4 linked regions of the Homo sapiens genome follow. The protein of the gene in region 4 purifies or fractionates together with the protein of the main gene of each other region. This does not show direct contact. Each region holds a gene or a part of one and is shown on either strand. Other genes may lie near its edges. The genes, in order: DDX23, RGPD5, ZNF318 and ZBTB46.

Evidence for each region.
Region 1: the proteins of ZBTB46 (region 4) and DDX23 purify together in Homo sapiens (affinity purification with mass spectrometry, with the first as the bait; one large-scale study listed by BioGRID). This does not show direct contact.
Region 2: the proteins of ZBTB46 (region 4) and RGPD5 purify together in Homo sapiens (affinity purification with mass spectrometry, with the first as the bait; one large-scale study listed by BioGRID). This does not show direct contact.
Region 3: the proteins of ZBTB46 (region 4) and ZNF318 purify together in Homo sapiens (affinity purification with mass spectrometry, with the first as the bait; one large-scale study listed by BioGRID). This does not show direct contact.

The regions. Positions count from the first base shown.
Region 1 is NC_000012.12:48,838,249-48,843,113, reverse strand, and holds part of DDX23 (probable ATP-dependent RNA helicase DDX23), read left to right. Parts: intron 1-3,007; coding exon 3,008-3,101; intron 3,102-3,204; coding exon 3,205-3,270; intron 3,271-4,865. UniProt on the Homo sapiens protein: Involved in pre-mRNA splicing and its phosphorylated form (by SRPK2) is required for spliceosomal B complex formation.
Region 2 is NC_000002.12:109,828,455-109,833,319, reverse strand, and holds part of RGPD5 (RANBP2-like and GRIP domain-containing protein 5/6), read right to left. Parts: intron 2,004-4,865; coding exon 1,868-2,003; intron 470-1,867; coding exon of another isoform or gene 357-469; exon of another isoform or gene 301-356; intron 1-300.
Region 3 is NC_000006.12:43,362,559-43,367,423, forward strand, and holds part of ZNF318 (zinc finger protein 318), read right to left. Parts: intron 2,883-4,865; coding exon 2,734-2,882; intron 1,662-2,733; exon of another isoform or gene 857-1,661; intron 1-856.
Region 4 is NC_000020.11:63,827,974-63,833,517, reverse strand, and holds the start of ZBTB46 (zinc finger and BTB domain-containing protein 46), read left to right. Parts: upstream 1-2,253; 5' UTR 2,254-2,421; intron 2,422-2,687; exon of another isoform or gene 2,688-2,820; intron 2,821-2,880; exon of another isoform or gene 2,881-2,961; intron 2,962-5,544. UniProt on the Homo sapiens protein: Functions as a transcriptional repressor for PRDM1.

The sequences.
Region 1 (4,865 bases), on a different chromosome or scaffold from region 4:
TCTTAACGAGCATGCTGCCTTCAAGCATCTGTTTAACAAAGCACATCTTGCACCACCCTTAATCCATTCAACCCTGAGTGGACACAGCACATGTTTCAGAGAGCACAGGGTTGGGGGTAAGGTCACAGATCAACAGGATCCCAAGGCAGAAGAATTTTTCTTAGTACAGAACAAAATGAAAAGTCTCCCATGTCTACCTCTTTCTACACAGACACGGCAACCATCCGATTTCTCAATCTTTTCCCCACCTTTCCCGCCTTTCTATTCCACAAAACCGCCACTGTCATCATGGTCCGTTCTCAATGAGCTGTTGAGTACACCTCCCAGACGGGGTGGTGGGCGGGCAGAGGGGCTCCTCACTTCCCAGTAGGGGCGGCCGGGCAGAGGCGCCCCTCACCTCCTGGACGGGGCGGCTGGCCGGGCGGGGGGCTGACCCCCCCACCTCCCTCCCGGACGGGGCGGCTGGCCGGGCAGAGGGGCTCCTCACTTCCCAGTAGGGGCGGCCGGGCAGAGGCGCCCCTCACCTCCTGGACGGGGCGGCTGGCCGGGCGGGGGGCTGACCCCCCCACCTCCCTCCCGGACGGGGCGGCTGGCCGGGCGGGGGGCTGACCCCCCCACCTTCCTCCCGGACGGGGTGGCTGGCCGGGCGGGGGGCTGACCCCCCTACCTCCCTCCCGGATGGGGCGGCTGGCCGGGCGGGGGGCTGACCTCCCCCACCTCCTTCCCGGACGGGGCGGCTGACTGGGCAGAGAGGCTCCTCACTTCCCAGTAGGGGCGGCCGGGCAGAGGCGCCCCTCACCTCCCGGACAGGGCGGCTGGCCGGGCCGGGGGCTGACCCCCCCACCTCCCTCCCGGATGGGCGGCTGGCCGGGTGGGGGGATGACCCCCCCACCTCCCTCCTGGACGGGGCGGCTGGCCGGGTGGGGAGCTAACCCCCCCCACCTCCCTCCCGGACGGGGTGGCTGCCGGGCGGAGACGCTCCTCACTTCCCAGACGGGGTGGCTGCCAGGCGGAGGGGCTCCTCACTTCTCAGACGATGTGGCTGCCGGGCGGAGGGGCTCCTCACTTCTCAGACGGGGCGGTTGTCAGGCAGAGGGTCTCCTCACTTCTCAGACGGGGCGGCCGGGCAGAGACGCTCCTCACATCCCAGACGGGGCGGCAGGGCAGAGGCGCTCCCCACATCTCAGACGATGGGCGGCCTGGCAGAGACGCTCCTCACTTCCTAGATGGGATGGCGGCCGGGCAGAGGCTGCAATCTCGGCACTTTGGGGGGCCAAGGCAGGCAGCTGGGAGGTGGAGGTTGTAGCGAGCCAAGATCACGCCACTGCACTCCAGCCTGGGCACCATTGAGCACTGAGTGAACGCGACTCCGTGTGCCATCCCGGCACCTCGGGAGGCCGAGGCTGGCGGATCACTCGCGGTCAGGAGCTGGAGACCAGCCCGGCCAACACAGCGAAACCCCGTCTCCACCAAAAAAATACGAAAACCAGTCAGGCGTGGCGGCGCACGCCTGCAATCGCAGGCACTCGGCAGGCTGAGGCACGAGAATCAGGCAGGGAGGTTGCAGTGAGCCGAGATGGCAGCAGTACGGTCCAGCTTTGGCTCAGCATCAGAGGGAGACCATGGAAAGAGAGGGAGAGGGAGACCGTGGGGAGAGGGGAGAGGGGAGAGGGAGCCTGAAGCTTTTCTATCTATGGATTCTTCTCTGAATCTTTGGGGGTTTTTTTGAGATGGAGTTTTTGTTCTGTTGCCCAGGCTGGAGTGCAATGGCACGATCTCGGCTCACTGCAACCTCTGCCTCTTGGGTTCAGGCAATTTTCCTGCCTCAGCCTCCCAAGTAGCTGGGAATACAGGCATGCGCCACCATGCCTGGCTAATTTTTGTATTTTTAGTAGAGACAGGGTTTCTCCATGTTGGCCAGGCTGGTCTCGAACTCTTGACCTTAGGTGATCCGGCCACCTCGGCCTCTCAAAGTGCTGGGATTACAGGCGTGAGCCATTGTGCCTGGCCTGTATACAGAGTTCTTATCAGGCCCTGAAAGTATAGGTTAGAATTCAAGGCAGAGGACAGAATGCTCCTAACAGAAACTCAGTGGGGTTGTTTGAATTATCTTGTAGATTAAGCTTAGAGCAGGTATGGGGAAAGGATTGTTGGGATTGATAGGAATGAAAAATGATGAGGGAATATAGATAGCAGTATCTTCTTGGCTTGTGGTGGTGGCCATGTAGGCTAAATTCATTGTATATTAAAGAGTTAAGGAGGGCCAGGCGCTGTGGCTCACACCTGTAATCCTAGCACTTTGGGTGGCCGAGGTGGATGTATCACCTGAGGTCAAGAGTTCGAGACCAGCCTGGCCAACATGATGAAACCTCGTCTCTACTAAAAATATAAAAATTAGCCAGTGGTGGCAGTACTCGCCTGTAGTCCCAGCTACTCAGGAGGCTGAGGCAGGAAAATTTCTTGAACCCAGGAGGCGGAGGTTGCAGTGAGCTGAGATCACACCATTGCACTCCAGCCTGGGCGACAGAGTGAGACTGTGTCTCAAAAAAAAAAAAAAAAAAAATTTTTCTCTAAACAACCACACCTGGCTAATTTTTGTGTTTTTACTAGAGACAGGGTTTTGCCATGTTGGCCAGGCTGGTCTTGAACTCCTGACCTCAGGTAACCCACCTGTCTTAGCCTCCCAAAGTGCTGGGATTATAGGCATGAGACACCGCGCCTGGCCTAGGGGAAATATTTTTGACATCAGTAGTAAAGTCCCACTTCCCAAAAGAGATTAGTCTCAAAAGGAGATTTGGGTAGAAAGGGGCCAAGACAGGGCCATAATTAGGTTTCAGAGCTGGCAGAATGACCATGCCTGCTAAGAGAGTTTCAAGACATGATAGATGACCATGGGCCAGTCTTGTTGAGTCATGGGGAAACTTCCATTCTCTTTTCGGGGCTCAACTTGAACCTCATCCAGGCACTGAAGTAAGAGTGATGTGGACCTTGTTCCTTTTCCTCAAAGCTTATCTCCTGGTCGAGGAAAAGACTTTAAATCTCGGAAGGACAGAGACTCTAAGAAGGATGAAGAGGATGAACATGGTGATAAGAAGCCTAAGGTAAAGGAGAGGAAGGATATTTTTCATCTTCAACTCGTGCGTTGCTTTGTTGATCTTTAAAGGGAGAGAGCCTTTATAGACTAAAGTTCTGTTTTATCTTCAGGCCCAGCCATTATCCCTGGAGGAGCTTCTGGCCAAGAAAAAGGCTGAGGAAGAAGCTGAGGCTAAGGTAAGTACTTGAGGGTCTTCATTCATCGGCTCAGGCTGCCATAACACAATACCACAGACTGGGTGACTTCAACGACAGAAGTTAATTTTCTCACAGTTCTGGAGGCTGGAAGTCTGAGAGCGGAGTGTCAGCAGGGTTATTTCTTCTGAGGTCTCTCTCCTTGGCTTATAAGGCTGTCTTCTTCCTCAGCTCTTCACATGGTCCTCCCTCTGTACACATGTACCCCTTGTGTTGGATTAGGGCTCACCCTAAAAGGCCCTTTTTTTTTTTTTTTTTTTTTTTTTTGAGACAGAGTCTCACTCTGTCGCCCAGGATGGAGTACAGTGGCATGATATCGGCTCACTTCAACCTCCACCTCCCAGGCTGAAGCAATCCTCCCACCTCAGCCTCCCAAGTATCTGGGACTACAGGTGCGTGCCACAACGTCCAGCTAATTTTTGTATTTTTTGTAGAGTCCAGATTTCACCACGTTGTCCAGGCTGGTCTCGAACCCCTGGGCTCAAGTGATCTGCCCTCCTTGGCCTCACAAAGTGCTGGGATTACAGGCGTGAGCCACTGTGCCCAGCCTAATGGGCTCATTTTAACTTAATCACCTCTTTACATGTCCTGTCTCCACATATAGTCAAATTCTGAGGTACTAGGAGTTAGGGCTTCCACATAGGAATTTTGAGCTGGGTACAGTGGCTCACACCTGTAATCCCAATACTTTGGAAGGCCAAGATGGGAGGATCACTTGAGCCAGGGATTTTTAGACCAGCCTAGGCAACATGGTGAAAACCCATCTCTATAAAATTTTAAAAATTAGCCATCTGTGGTAGCATGCGCCTGTAGTCCCAGCTACTCAGGAGGCTGAGGCAAGGATATTGCTTGAGCCCAGGAGGTTGAAGCTGCAGTGAGCCATGATGACACCACTGTACTGCAGCTTGGGCAACAGAGCGAGAGTCTGTCTCAAAAAATATATATAACACATGCATTGTTTGTTTGTTTGTTTGAGATGGAGTCTCGCCCCGTTGCCCAGGCTGGAGTGCAGTGGCATGATCTCGGCTCACTGCAACCTCTGCCTCCCAGGTTCAAGCAATTCTCCTGCCTCAGCCTCCTGAGTAGCTGGGATTACAGGCACGTGCCACCATGCCTGGCTAATTTTTTGTATTTTTTTAGTAGAGATAGGGTTTCACTGTGCTGGCCAGGCTTGTCTTGAACTCCTGACCTCGTGATCCGCCCATCTCGGCCTCCCAAAGTGCTAGGATTACAGGCACAAGCCACCGCACTCGGCCACATTTTTTTTTTTTTTTTAAAGGTAAGGTCTTGCTCGTTTGCCCAGGCTAAAGTACAGTGGTGCAATCACAGCTCACTGTAACCTCAAACTCCTGGGCTCATATGATTTTCCTGCCTCAGCCTCCTGAGTAGCTGGGACTATATGCACATGCCATCATGTCTGGCTGAGTTTTTTTATTTTTGTAGAAACAAGGTCTGCTATGTTGCCCAGGCTGGTCTTGAACTCATGGCCTCAAGCGGTCCTCCCATCTAGGTCTCATAAAACACTGGGATTACAGGCATGTGCCACCACGTCCAGCCTGAAAAAACATATGAATTCT
Region 2 (4,865 bases), on a different chromosome or scaffold from region 4:
GGATACCATGAACTCATTAATATTCAAAAAACATTTAAGTTTAAAAATGCTCAGAACTAAAGTAACATTTTAAAAACAGGCTAGCTCATCTACACACAACATAGTAACATGGTAACAATCTCATAAAAAATACTATATGTATAGAGAAAGAACCAGAAGGAAATGCTCTCAAATATAAGAAATGTTAATGAGGTGGTTAGCTTTTAGTTTTCTTCACCCTGTTCAGTACTTCTGAGTATCTCCTATGAGCTCATTAATCTTTAATTTTAATCATCTTATTTTAAAAAAACAAGGACCATCTTGATATATGTTTACTTTTATTAAGGAAAAAGAATCTATGAACACAGGAACAGAAATCAGGAGATCTTGGCTCTCGCCCTTTCAGTGCCACAAAGCTGTTTTGTGAACCTGTAAATAATCCATTTGGAGTCTCCATGTTTCTCAATTGTAAAATGACGATGTGCTGCTTCTACACATTTCACAGGGTCATTGCAAGAATAAAATGAGACAATGAGAATGTTGGATTTACATGCTTGTATAAGAACAGAAGACCTTTTATGCCTGTACACAGAAGAAATGGAAATCATGACCCACAAGGCACCAAATAACTGACTGCACACATCACTAAAAAAGCCCCAGGAAAGGCTAGCCGGTTTGTTTATCCTCTTACAAGGACCTATATGATGTGTAAGGTTTTAAGAAAACAAGGTTTGAACGTTAGACATTTCATATACTTATCTATGACTTACGACATTTAATAAGCTTGACTTCACAAAGATTTTCTGTTATTTTGCTTGTGTTGAGAAGATACTATCACAAAAGGCTAGTGGGGTTGCCTTAACTATAGGAACCATCACACAAATGTGCTCATCTAAACTAGATTTTTTTCTAAATCTTTCCTGGGCTAAAAAGAGAAAAAAAAAAAGGGCACTACTACTACCATTTCAGAAGTCTGTCGTACGTAAAAGGAACAATTTTGTTATTTCTGGCTGCCTGGGAGCAATGTATTATACTGGCAAGTGCTTTGGAGTTACACCACTGGAGTGTGAATCTCGGCTCTATCAATAACTAGCTGTATAATAATGAGTAAGTTACCTAACCTTTCTTTATCCATTTCCTTATTTATAAAAAAGGGATTAATAATGGTACCGGCCATTCTAAGTTACTGTAATTAAATCAAATTACATTCACACAGCACTTTTGCACACAGCCAACCCACAGTAAACACTATTAGTAACCTTAGTTCATTAACTGTTTACTGTATACTCTAATAAATGTCTGATACACACCCACGCCCACCTGCACATACACAAATGCTCATAGTAATTATGTAAGGCAAGTATTATCTCCACATTTCAGACAGGTTAACTTACACAGCTATTATAGTAAGTGATAGAGCAGAACTTAAAAACCCAGTATGATTCAGGTCCAAACTCCTTTTCTTTCTTTATATAACCATAATATTTCAAATTAAGTAAGATTTCCTATATAACGTCCTGCCTCTCATCATTATCATCAAAATAATTCCCCAGAGGTGTAGGTTCTTAATTAAGCATTTCTTAGTGCATAACTCTATTCAATAACATTTTGCAATTTAAGGAATAATCTCATCTCAGCTCATCTGAGGTGTGGATTAAGTGTTCTTTAAGCCTTTATATACACGTGATCACATACGGCTCGTTTTTTCTGCTTGGGATTATAAAAATCTCCGTAACACCTAATACAGCTTTTGAAGTCACATATAAACAGACGTTGACATGTATATTAACAAACATATATAAACAAGGTGATTTCACACGTTATCTACTTAAAAGAGGGAAGTAAAGTAGTTTTACTAAAATATGCGATTATCCACTTGCCAGCTCACCTGTTAGTGGAGCCCCATGAAATGTCTGTGACCCCTGATATCCATCAGGCACCGAGTCTGGTCCATAATTCTCTGTGGGCCAACGATGACGGGATGCTGACTTACTGCTATTTAGTTTCAACTCCTGCATTTCTTTCTATTGGAAGAAAAAAAAAATCAAATAATTTTAATCATTTAATTATATCATGCCAGAAACAGTGCTGGGGAAACTTACTCTTTTAAATTTAAATAACTGATTTTTTCTTTTTTTCTTTTTTGAGATGGTGTCTCGATCTGTCGTCCAGGCTGGAGTGCAATGGCACAATCTTGGCTCACCGCAACCTCCACCTCCTGGGCTCAAGCAATTCTCCCACCTCAGCCTCCCGAGTAGCTGGGATTACAGGCGTCAGCCAGCACGCCCGGCTAATTTTTGGTATAATAGTAGAGATGGGGTTTCACCATGTTTGCCAGGCTAGTCTTGAACTCCTGACCTCAAGTGATCCACCACCTCAGCCTCCCAAAGTGCTGGGATTATAGGTGTGACCCACCACGCCCGGACCTGATTATATCTTTTGAAAGTTTCTATTTGCCAAAGAGTTCTAGGTACCTGGTGCTGATTTTAAAATATGATTCTTAATTTGTTAAAAATTTATCTGCTCCCATTTTCATTCGTTAATACAAAACCTAATTCATTAACTCTCTCACCTAAACAAATAACCTCCTAAATGATCACACCTTCATTTCCATTCTACACTTGCCTACATTAACCTTTCTGACGTTCACCTCCAGCCAAGACAATTCCCTGCTCAAAAAAACAAGTACCTACAAACTAAACTTCTTTCCCCAACTTTCACAGTCCTCTAACATTACACTGACCATCCTTTCAGTGTGTTCTTTCTACACTGCAACCTGGACTACCTGACATTCCAAATCACCTCCCCAAATTAGCTTTTCACTTAACCCTGTGTTCAAACAAAATACAACTAATTCTCAAGGTGATGTTCAAATGCTCCACCAGGAAAGGGAAAAAAGTAGTAGCTGCAGAGAATTTATTATGTATATAATAATACGTCCAATGCACTTAAACTCTTAATTTTTACACCATCTACACTGTTAGGTAAACAATATTAGCTCCTATCTTAAAATGAGAGAAACGGATGCAGGGAATAACAGCTGGAATTTGAAACACATCTGACTCCAAAAATGTTTTCTTAACACAACTCTGCTGCCTTGACAAGATGGCAGATAGATCCAATGCCGTCTAGTGTAGCTATGTGGCTACTTGATCTCTGCTGAAGAAAACTAAATGACAGCACCATACCCAACACCCTAGAACCTACAAAATGTCCCCTTACAAAACAGACACTTAACAGGAAATTCTTTTTCCAAAGAAATTGTAGTGGTATCAGAAAACAGGTAAATTTTGAAAAGTTTCAAACTTCTCTGTATCAGCCCAGGAATCCGATCAGTTCTAACAAGTGAGGTCAGGGACAGATCTAGCATGTCTGCTTTCTGTTTCTACAAGTGTTTCAATTAAAAATTTCCCAGAAAGACCTAACCATGAGGTCCAAAACTATCTCAATTTTCAAGCTAAATAAAATTTCCCCCATTCATCCATCTACAGTGCCTAGTCCAGATGCTACACATACACATCCAAGAAATAAGAAACTAGTGGAATCACCTAGAAAACTTTATAGTCACTGTTGGTATCCGCACCAGAGCTTTGAATTTGCAATCACTGCTGTAACTGTAATTTTTAACATTCAGTGTGATGAGAACTGGCTTCAATAATTCTCTCATTTTAAAGATAAGAAGCCAAACAGTCACAAAGGAAGTGACTGGCCCAAGATCATTAATTAATGGCAGAGTCAGTACTAGTACCAAGCTTTTCAAGCTCATGGACTAGTGCTCCACTATACTTCCACAGAATACAATGTTGGGAGCCTGAAACCTGTATGTTAAGTCAAAATTGTATGTAATTGTCATAGGCCACGACTACACAGAATTAACATTCAAAATTTTTGTGCAAATTCAAAAATGTCTTCCCCACCAAATAGTATTCTCTTAATTTGCAAATGCTGCTGATCACACTGTAATAATCGCCACACATCAGCATATCCTTGATGTAACTTTAGCAGTATGAGTAATTTAGTTCTTGCTTGATAAACATGAAAGAACCTACTTTTATTTCCAATTCCAAAAAAGTCAAGCTCCTTTGAACCCTATTGTTAAAATAAGATATATATACATAACTATTTCCTTACATAATTAAGTCAAATTCATATGGAAGTATTAAAATATAGTAAGACTTTTTGAAGCTCAGACCACTTTTCGATTCCTAGCTATACATTTGAAACACATGTAATCCACAGCTAATCTGGGAATGAACTCATAGACCAGAGTATGATTAGTACATTGTAGCACTTCAATCACTCGGGAACCTTCTCTGTGTCAGGAACTCTTATATTTTAAATAAAACAGTTTCTACCTTTGAAGGTCTCAAATTTTGTGGAAGATGAGGAGAGAGACACATAAAGTACTTTCAAAAATATGGTAAAGGGCTGGGTGCGGTGGTTTACACCTGTAATCCCAGCACTTTGGGAGGCCAAGGTGGGCAGATCACCTGAGGTCAGAAGTTCAAAACCAGCCTGGCCAACATGGTGAAACTCTGTGTCTACTAAAAATACAAAAATTAGCTGGGCCTGGTGGCGGGTGCCTGTAATCCCAGCTACTCGGGAGGCTGAGGCAGGAGAGTCACTTGAACCTGGGAGGTGGAGGTTGCAGTGAGCCAAGATCACACCATTGCACTCCAGACTGGGCAACAGAGTGAGACTCCATCTCAAAACAAAACAAAACAAAATATGGTAAAGGGTCAAGACCGAGGTATGTAGGCTGGGCACAGTGGCTCACACCTGCAATCCCAGCACTTTGGGAGGCTGAAGCAGGAGGATTGTTTGAGCCAGGAGTTCAAGGCCACCCTGGGCAACATGGCAAAATCCCATCTCTACAAAAAATACAA
Region 3 (4,865 bases), on a different chromosome or scaffold from region 4:
TGTGCAGTGGCACAATCTGGGCTCACTGCAAACTCTGCCTCCCAGGTTCAAGCTTCTCCTGCCTCAGCCTCTGGAGTAGCTAAGACTACAGGCATGCGCCACCACTGGGTAATTTTTGTATTTTTGGTAGAGACAGGATCTCATCATGTTGGCCAGGATGGTCTCGAACTCCTGACCTCAAGTGATTGGCCCACCTCAGCCTCCCAAAGTGCTGGGATTACAGGTATGAGCCACTGCGCCAGGCCCAAACATCTACATACAAAGGATATAAATGGCCTGTATCATTGGTTGAAGACTAGACTCACTGTCAGGAGACAACCTGAGTATGCCAATGGTCCTGTGGCCTGGTTTTAGTGGACAGTAATTATCCACACAAACCATACTGAACAAAAGGGAAAGAAGAGAAATGTGTAGGGGGCAACAGTATTTTTTAAATGGCCTTGTATCTTTGTTTAGAACCTTAATCTCACTTTCTCTAAAGTAGACCTGTGCCTCTGAAACACATGATTCTACAAAGAAGACTGCTGCCCCAAACTCCTTAAGAGGAAAAATTTTAATTTTTGTAATTTAAAAATATAATTAGTTCTATCTGAAGCACATGTGCATAACAAAGTTTATGCAAAGGGGAAGTGACATCCTAGGCCTAAGAAGAACTGCTGAAGCTAACTCAAAACCTCAGCAAAGAATGAAGACAATCACACTATGTACCACCTACCCAGACTACCTACTCAATAATTTCCCCAAACAGAAGCAGCCAGAAGAGCAAGGGCTATTGCCTCAATTAAGTGATACAGTCACATATCTTGAAGCCCTTTAGAAGCTTCAATGTTATATGACATAAGACTATTTTGCCTTGCTTCTTCTCTGAGAAAACACCAAATGGCAGATGATGTCGGTGGAGGGGGTGGGGCGGGGGCAGAGGCCCCGGGGGCCCTGGGATGGGAAACCGTGGTGGCTTCCATGGAGGGGCTGGGGTTGCAGCTGTGGACAGGGCTGAGGCCACGGAGCTCGTGGAGGCAAGGCCAAGGATAAGGAGTGGATGCCTGTCACCAAGCTGGGCTGCTTGGTTAAGGACATAAAGATCAAGTCCCTGGAGAACTACCTCTTCTTCCTGCCCATCAAGGAATCTGAGATCACTGACTTTTTCCTGGGGGCCTCTCTCAAGGATGAGGTGTTGAAGATTATGCCAGTGCAGAAGCAGACCCACACTGGCCAGTTGAAAAGGTTCAAGGCGTTTGTTGCCATCGGGGACTACAATGGCCACGTCGGTCTGGGTGTTAAGTGCTCCAAGGAGGTGGCCACTGCCACCTGCGGGGCCATCATCCTGGCCAAGCTCTCCATTCTCCCTGTGCACAGAGGCTACTGGGGGAACAAGATCCACAAGCCCCACACCGTTCCTTGCAAGGTGACAGGCTACTGCGGCTCTGTGCTGGTGCACCTCATCCCTGCGCCCAAGGGCACTGGCATCGTCTCAGCCCGTGCCCAAGAAGCTGCTCATGATGGCTGGTATTGATGACTGCTACACCTCAGCCAGGGGCTGCACTGCCACCCTGGGCAACTTCGCCAAGGCCACCTTTGATGCCATCTCTAAGACCTACAGCTACCTGACCCCCGACCTCTGGAAGGAGACAGGATTCACCAAGTCTCCCTATCAGGAATTCACTGACCACCTCATCAAGACACACACCAGAGTCTCTGTGCAGAGGACGTAGGCTCCAGCTGTGGCTACAACATAGGGTTTTTATACAAGAAATATAAAGTGAATTAAGCCTGAAAAAAAAAAAAAAAAAAGACTGTTCTGCCTTGCTTCACTGCATCCACAGCCAATGGAACTTTTAGGTATTACCAACGGCAAAACTGGTCCTCAGACTTCCTGCCCAGCTCTCCCCCACCCGCCTAGCTATGCTCTGTGCAACACGGCAAGCGACAGTCTCAGTTTGAAATTACATTACATTGATTTATTGCTACTGCTAATCATTTGTCAAAACTCCCAATGTGCTGGGCAGAGACCATAACAGTCATGGTCTCAGCTCTGAGAAAGAGTGCTTTCCTGAACTCCCATCCATACTTTGACTTTTGTGAGGTGAAAAACACCTAATGTGATTATTTACAATCTATATATGGTTAAGTTCCTAGTACCTGAGGTCTATATCCAACTCTCTTGAGTGTATCTACCCTTCCTCAGCACTCAATAGTTGTAAAATAATAACTGAACTTAAACATTTTTGAAGGTCTCTAGCTTTCTATTAATACTTTATCTACTTCACATACACACATATATTAGACATGAACTTACCTAACCCTTTCTGAATCTGTTTCAGCCTGGATAAACTAAAAAATAACACCATTTTAAAAAGACTTCCCATTTTGTCCAGAACTTTTCTTTGGAGAAGGGACTGCTCATAGTTTCACTGTTTTAGAATCTATACCATCTCAACTGTTCTTCATTTGGGGGACTCTGATTATGTCCCCTCAGCCTCTTCTTTCTAGTCAGACTCAGATGACCTTTTTAAAGTCTTTTTTTCTATACAATTTATTCAACAACAGAGTCTACACATCATTATACTCCTCCCACTTAGAAATTCTATCCCAGCGTTTTATTTTGTACTGGACATGTGGCATAGGAAATAACTTTAGAGCTGGCACCATCCTTTCAAATATATCATTCGGAAAACAGCAACATTTCTGCCTTCAAGTACTAGTATAGTAGGCCCTGCCTTAGGTGATGCCTACCTGTCCATGTCTTCCAGATTATCCACTGGTGACCCCAGCCGATCACTAAGCCGTCGCCGTTCTGGTGTGCTAACACAGAAGTGGTCATTGCCAACAGTGATCCTTAAGCTCTTTTCCAAAGAGTCAGAACACAGACCAGGAGAGCGTCTCTACAAAAGTAAAGGATAATATGGTTAGTCAATAGGGTCAAGACATCCCTACATCCAAAAACTCTCCTCCCTAGTTACAAAGTTAGCCAGGCATGGTGGCTCATGCCTGTATACCCAACACTTTGGGAGGCTGAGGTGTATAGGCCCAGGCAAGAATGTGAGACCAGTCTGGGCAACACAGACTCCATCTCTATAAAAAAAAGTTTAAAATTAGCCAGGTGTGGTCCCAACTACTCAGGTGGCTGAGGTGGGAGGATAGCTTAAGCTTGGGAGGTCAGGGCTGCAGTGAGCCATGACTGCACCACAGCACTTCAGCCTGGGCAATGAGCAGGACCTTGTCTCAAAAACAAAAGACAACCCTGCAAAGTTGGGGTTCAACAAGGTGAGAAATGGTTATGGTAAGACACTATACCAAAAATAAAGCACTTTTTAAAAATTATCATTTTCTTAGAGATATAAGCCCATACCTCTAACTCTCCTAAACGGTGACCTCTCATTCTTACTGGGCATGGGAAAAGAGAAGTGAATAAAGTCCCTGCTCTCAGAACCCTACTTCTAGTGTACATACTTCTAGTGAAGGAGGTAAGCCAAAAACAAGTTTAAAGAAAAAAAAAATTCTTCTGGTAAGTGCTATAGTCATTAAAACATGGTACCATAAAAGGAGTTACTTCAGATAGGATGGTTAGAAAAGGTTTTTCTCAGGTGATAACCTGAGGCCTGAAGAATGAGGTGTCAGCTTTGCAAAGAACAGGTAGAAAGATGTTTCAGGCAAAGAAAAGAACCACCTCAGTATAGAGCTTGGTATACTTTAAGTAACAGAAAAGCGGCCGGTGTGGCTGCAGCAAAGTGACAGAAGAGGAAAAGATAGGCAGAAAGCACAGTTGGGAAATTTGGATTTTATTCTTAGTGCAATTAACAGTTATAGGAGGGTTTTACACAGGATAGTGACATCATCTGACTACATTTTTCCTCCAGATGCTTGCACAGCACACCCTCACCTCCTTCAGATCTTTATTCAAAAATCACCTTCCCAGGAGGCCTTCCCTGACTACTCTCAAAAATTTTAACTCCCCGGGCCAGGCATGGTAGCTTATGCCTGTAAGCCCAGCATTTTGGGAGGCTGAGGCAGGAGAATCACTTGAGGCCAGGAGTTTGAGACCAGCCTGGGCAACATAGTGAAATCCCTCCCCACACCAAAACATTTTTTTAAAATAAAATCAGCTGGGATGTTGGTACGCACCTGTAGTCCCAGCTACTCAGGATGCTGAGGTGAGAGGATCGCTTGAGCGTGGGAGTTTGAGACTGCAGTGAGCTATGATCACACCACTACACTCAAGCCCGGGTGACAGAGCAACACTATATTACATACACACACACGCACACAAACTGTAACTCCCTTCTCTGCTCTTAGTCCTTTTTTTTTTGTTTTGTTTGAGACTTGCTCTGTCGTCCCCAGCCTGGAGTGCAGTGGCACGATCTCGGCTCACTGCAAGCTCCGCCTCCCAGGTTCATGCCATTCTCCTGCCTCAGCCTCCCAAGTAGCTGGGACTACAGGTGCCCGCCACCAAGCCCGACTAATTATTGTATTTTTAGTAGAGACGGTGTTTCACCGTGTTAGCCAACATGGTCTCGATCTCCTGACCTCGTGATCCGCCTGCCTCGGCCTCCCAAAGTGCTGGGATTACAGGCGTGAGCCACCGCGCCCGGCCCTATTTTAGTACTTCTTAGTCCTTCTTAGTACTTAATTACATTTAACATACCATCGCATTTCTAACTTCAACTTATTATCCAACTCTCCCTGCTAGAATATTAACTCTATAAGGATAGGAGTTTTTTTCTGGTTTGTACTTTGTTGTATCCCCAGGGTAGTCCAGAACAGTCCTAATGCAAAGTAGATGCTCAATAAATACATGTCAAATGTATAAAATGAGGGCTTAAAAATCAATTTGATTTCTGTGTAACCTCCAGAACAAACTGGAGGGT
Region 4 (5,544 bases):
CCGGGTTGACGCCATTCTCCTGCCTCAGCCTCCCGAGTAGCTGGGACTACAGGCACCTGCCACCACGCCTGGCTAATTTTTTGTATTTTTAGTAGAGACGGGGTTTCACCGTGTTAGCCAGGATGGTCTCGATCTCCTGACCTCGTGATCCGCCTGCCTCGGCCTCCCAAAGTGCTGGGATTACAGGCGTGAGACACCGCGCCCGGCCCTCAGCAAGTTTCTACCAAGACAGGCAGCCCTAACCTGGCAGGTGGGGTTGGCCTGGGTCGTGGTGAGATCAAGGTTTGGTTCTTATGGGCAGGCCTCCTAAGCGATGACTGAGTGCCACTGTGTGTTCCGCCAGGCAGCTGCTGCTGCTCTCCATCCCTGCATGGACAACGGACATGGCAAACCATCAACACTGCTCTCCTTGGAGGCTGTCTAGGGAGGTCCAGACATCTTGGGAGAGACTGGGGTTCTCTTTTGCGCAAGAGAGCATGGGCAGGCTCTGCGGGAGGCCCTTGGGGCAGGCATCAGGGCTCTGGTCCTCCTTGCTTTGGCTCGGTGGGCCCGAGCTCTCCTGTCTCCCCAGGCCTCCTTTCCTCCGTGGGGTACAACTGGGCTCTGGGTGGGCAGGTGGGGGCTCCTGCAGGCAGTGCTGTTTTCTCCAAGGGGGATGCACGTGACCCGCCAGACCCTCCTGGAAGCCGCCTCTTCTCAGGGTGGTTGTGCTCAGCCCCCACTTCCCGAAGGTCGGTGAGGCTGGGGCTACAGTTTCAGACCAGAGCAGGCAGTGCCACCGAGAGGGTGCCGCGCGAGGTAGGCCGGCGACGGGGCTTCCTGGGCCGCAGTGCCATCCCGGCGACCTTGGCGAGGGGATGGGAACGGGGTGTCCGCACAGCCATTTCCAGGCGCCCGCGACGGCAGTAAGGGAGTGTCCCAGGCGTTGGTCCCGGCAGCCACACCTCGCTTCGCCTTTGCTCACTCATGGAGAGCCCTCAGCCGCCTCCCACTGCCGCTCCTGAATGCGCCTCACACATCCAGATTTGAAAGCACCCATAGGGCCGCCGCCTCCCACCTCCCGAGGAATCCGCTGCGCTGGGCCCGCAGGGAGGCAGGCTGGACGGCCCGGGCGCCTCCCCATTGGTTGGCCGGGCCGGGCTCGACTCCCTCGCGCGGCTGCCGGCCACAGGCTCACCTCCCTTCCCGCCGCGCCCGGGGAGAGGAAGCGAGGTGGCCTTTACCCCTGCGCAGGCCGGCCAGGAATGCGGGGCCGCGCTTCCCACTCTACCCGCCCGAGGGCTGAGGACGGCGGAGGCGAGAAGCGACGCGCAGAGTCCGGGCGCCGAGTGGTGGAGACGCGTCCCAGGCCGTTCGGATCGGGGCTGCACACGGGCTGGGGCGAGGCCCGGGCCGCTGGTTCCCGCCCCCTCCCGGAGCCATTCGTCCCCCGCAGACAACACGACGGGAGGGACCCACGCGCGGCCGCCGGTGCCCCTAGTCAGCCAAAAGCGAGCCCCACTGGCGGGCACCCCCACGAGGCCTGCGCCCGAGGTGCGCCGATCTCCGGGTGCGCCGAGGCCCCCGAGGGTAGGCGCGCGCGGTGCCCAGGCCCTTCCAGACCCCGCACCCCGGGCGGCCTTCCTTGGGGGCGCCTTTTCCGCACCGCGAGCGGCCCGCGTTGATGCCCGGCCGGGCTGGGGGAGTCGCCAAGTTTGCGAGACGCGCGCAGTGCAACCGCGCGTCAGGCGCGGGGACGGCCGGTGACCTGGGCACCCGCGCGCCCCCGAGGAACCTGCGCGTGGGCAGCGCCCGGTGCGCGGCCCGGGAAGGGAGCGGGTGCCCTCGCCGGGGTCGCCGCTCCCGTGGGGTGTTTCCAGGCTGCTCCGCGCTCGCGGGGCAAGGGCGCAGCGGGGGCCAGGGGGACCCCCGCGCCGCGCCGCCCCAGCCCCCCGCCAGCCCAGGGGAGGGGGCTTCCCACAATGCCCAGCGAGCTCCAGCCCGCACTTCCGCTGTCCGGCTGCCCGCGGGGGGGAGAACGGACCCCCGGCGCGGCCCCCTGCGACCCCGCGGCGCGGCGCCGGGAGCCGAGCGAGGGGCGGGGCCGGCGGCCGGGCCGGCGTGGGCGGGGCCCGGGGCGGTGGCCGCGGCCGGGGCGCGGCGCGGGCCAATCAGCGGCGGCCGGGCGCGCGCCGGGGGGCGGGGTCAGGGTCCGCGGGCGGGGCGCGCGCGCGCGGGCGGCGGGGGCCGCGGGGTTGGAGCGGGCGCGGGGGCGCGCGCCGGCCTGACGGACCGACGGACGGACGGACGGACCGAGCAGCCCCGGCGAGCGCGCAGCTCGGACCCGCCCGGACGCAGCGCCCTCCCGGCGGCGGCGGCGATCACCGGCGCCGGCCCGGCGGCCGCGGCGCCCGCCCTCGCCCGCGCCCCATGGGGTCACAGGTAAGCGGCGCCGGCTCATTGTCCGCGCGGCCGGGCGGGCGCATCGCGGCGGGGGCCGGGCCCGGAGCCGGGAGCCGGGAGCCGGGGCCGCTGCGAGCCCGGGCGCGCCCCCGCCGCCGGCCGCCCCGCCACGCCCCGCCCCGCGGGGGCGCCCTCCCGGGGGCCATCGGCGCTCCCAGCTGCGGCGCGGGCTCCGGGGGCGGCGGCGGAGACCCCGGCCCGGCCCCCGCGGGTGCCCCCCAGGCCGGCGGCGCGGGGCGGGGCGCGCGGGGGCGGCGCGGGTTCCCCGCGGGGCTGAGCGCGGAGGCGGCTGGGCTGCCCCGGCCCCTCGGCCCCCGGCACCTCCCGCCGCCGCCGCGCTCCCTCCCCGGCACCTCCGAGAGGGGAATTTTCCAGCTGGTAATTTCTGCTGCGTCAACGCCTGGCCCCGAGGCAGCCCGGGGGCGTCTTGGCGCCCCCCGCCCGCGCCCCCCGCCGGCACAGCCCAGCCGCACCCGGAGCCGCCCGCGCCGAGTTTGCCAAGAGTCGGAACTGCGGGAGGTGGGCGCGGGCGGGTCCCGGCGCCCTGAGGCCGGGGGGTCATTGTCTCCCCGGACGCCGGGCGCCGGCCTGGTCTCCATCTTAATCGCCGGCCGAACCGGGGCGCAGGGGCCTCGGGGCGGGGCGGCTCGGGGCGCGGAGGGCTCGGGGCGCGCGGGGCGGACGGGGCGCGCGGAGGAAGCGGGGTCCGCTGCGAGCCGCGTCTTTGTTTCTCTGTAAATAGACATGTCAGTTTCGCGGGGGAGCGCGAGCCGGTGTCTGACAACTCAATCCCTAAGGCAAACGGGGAATTCTCTGCGCCAGAGGGAGGGCTCCTGCTAGTTGGGGTTCCCCTGGCCCCGCTGACAGATTCACTGTTTGTAGGTTTAACGAAGCACACACAATAGGGCTGGACCGAGGAGCCAGGGTACAGACCAGATGGGGCGAAGAACGGATATTTTCTGACAGCGAAGAAATATAAACAAAAGAAAGTTTGAGATTCGCAGCGAATTTCCTCTCTCGCTTTCCGTGCTGCAATCTCAACGATGCATTTGGAGTGGATTACGGTGGCAAGATTGTGATCAGCATTGTTTAAAGAAATGCTAATTAGAAACGTGTTTAGCGCGCGGCCTGGGCGCAGACACCTGTGCGCCGAGAACTCACGGGCATTTTAATTGTATCGATTGTAGAATCTTTCATATTGGCTCTATTATCAGAGCTAACTTCCCGTTTGGGTAACAGACTGGATACATCTCTGCTGCTGGCACTCACGCTGCCTCTGCAAGGCACTATTTCACTCTACAAGAGTGGAAAATAGTTTGTTCATCAAAAGGAAATGTATAGAAGGGGTTTTTCACATGAATAATGAAGCAAGCGACAGTATTTATCAGAGTAGAACCTTTCTGCTCGGTGTGTTTTACGTGTTTCCAACTGGCACTTTTGGGCACCTCAGCCTGGTTACCACTGCAGAAAGGACTGAGGAGTGAGGGGAGTACTTGGGCACAAGTTACTGCAAATTTAGGTGGGAACTTACTGTGTCCCCTAAAAAGCTAGACATCTTCTCCGTAACTGAAGGAAGAGGGCTGGGGAGTTACTGTCAGATTTCTCCTTGGGGCGTGGAATGCACTCACTTTGAGGTGTTTAGAAATCCGAAATTCCGCCTTGCCTTCAGGCCAGCCTGGGGACAAGCATTTAATTAAGCCTCTCACTGACAGCATTATCCTGAACGTGAGAGTTTTCTTTTGCTTAGATGAGGTGATTTCTGTTCGGGTTTAGCTGTTTTGTGTGAGGATGAGTCGTTCTGTGCTCAGACCTGAGTTCCACTCCTGTTTCGGATGTTCGGGTTGGGTGGACTGTTACCTAAGGGCCCCCAGGTCAGTTCCACCAGGGCCAGGCTGACCCAGTGCCCTGCGTCCTCCGTCCCTCCCCAGCCCCTGGTGGTCACAGAGGTCAGGAGGTAAACCCTGTGAACGGTGAAACTGCTCCAAGGATTTAGAGGAAATGCCGTGGGGGGTACACAGTTGTTATTGTCAGACGATGTACTATTTACAAACACTGAATTAAATTTTAGCAGAGTGAACTTTCCAACACTGCCCTGACGTGGGGTTTTTAAATTAAGGGAAATTGGGCCACTCTGTCCCTGTGGCCTGTGTTTCTGGGACAGCGGTGCAGCTCCAGTGCTCTGTTCTCCATCAGAGGTCTTAGCCCGGCCTCTCAGAGCCCTGGAGACCCACTTCGTGCACGGTGCCTAGACGGCTCCACAGCCTGAGAACTGGAGCCGGTTCCTCCCACTGCCGTGACTGGTGCCCAGGCACCCGCTCCACTGCTGAGTTAAAGTGAGAGGAAAGGTCTAGAAGTCCTTGCCCCTTCCCATCCGCACACCCAGTGTCACGGCGTCTGCCGTGGTAGGTTCCCTGTCCTGGGGACTTCGTGTTCTTGCCTAAGTACCGTTCTTGTAAAAACTCAGGCTGCTGCTTCTCCCTGGGCTTTGCATGTTTTACCTGGAAGTCTCATGAGTGACCTTGAGTGATGGTTGATACTTCCCTCTACTGGTTTTTCTAGCAGATTTAAAAAAAAAAATACCCTTTGAATCTGTCCCCTCCCCTGGGGGAAAAATTCATCTTGTTGCTGCTAAGTTTGCTTGAATGGCCTGACTCCTAAGAATAAATGTTTGATTCAAAATCTCTATTAAGGCCACAGACTTATTCAGGGCTTTGAGAGGCCGCCGCCTTATCCTGATTGTGGTCCTCTTGCCGTCTGCCGCGGCTGCGGCGTAGCTGTGAACTTGTGCGGAGTGCTGGGGTCTTAGGCCATGGGGTCCATGGGAGGGATTTTCCTGCTTTTCTGTTATCACTTAGACCCTTTGAGTGCCTCACATATACAGACCCAGGCTTGGTGTTCTGGTTTGCTGGTGATGACAAAGGGCCCCAATGGTGTTGTTTATAGATGGAAAAGAGAAAGGATGTTTTTTAACAACCTAAAAGTGGTTCTGAGGCTGGGCGTGGTGGCTCACGCCTGTAATCCCAGTGCTTTGGGAGGCTGAGGCGGGCGGGCCGCTTGAGGCCAGGAGTTTGAGGCTGTAATGAACTATGATTGTGCCACTGG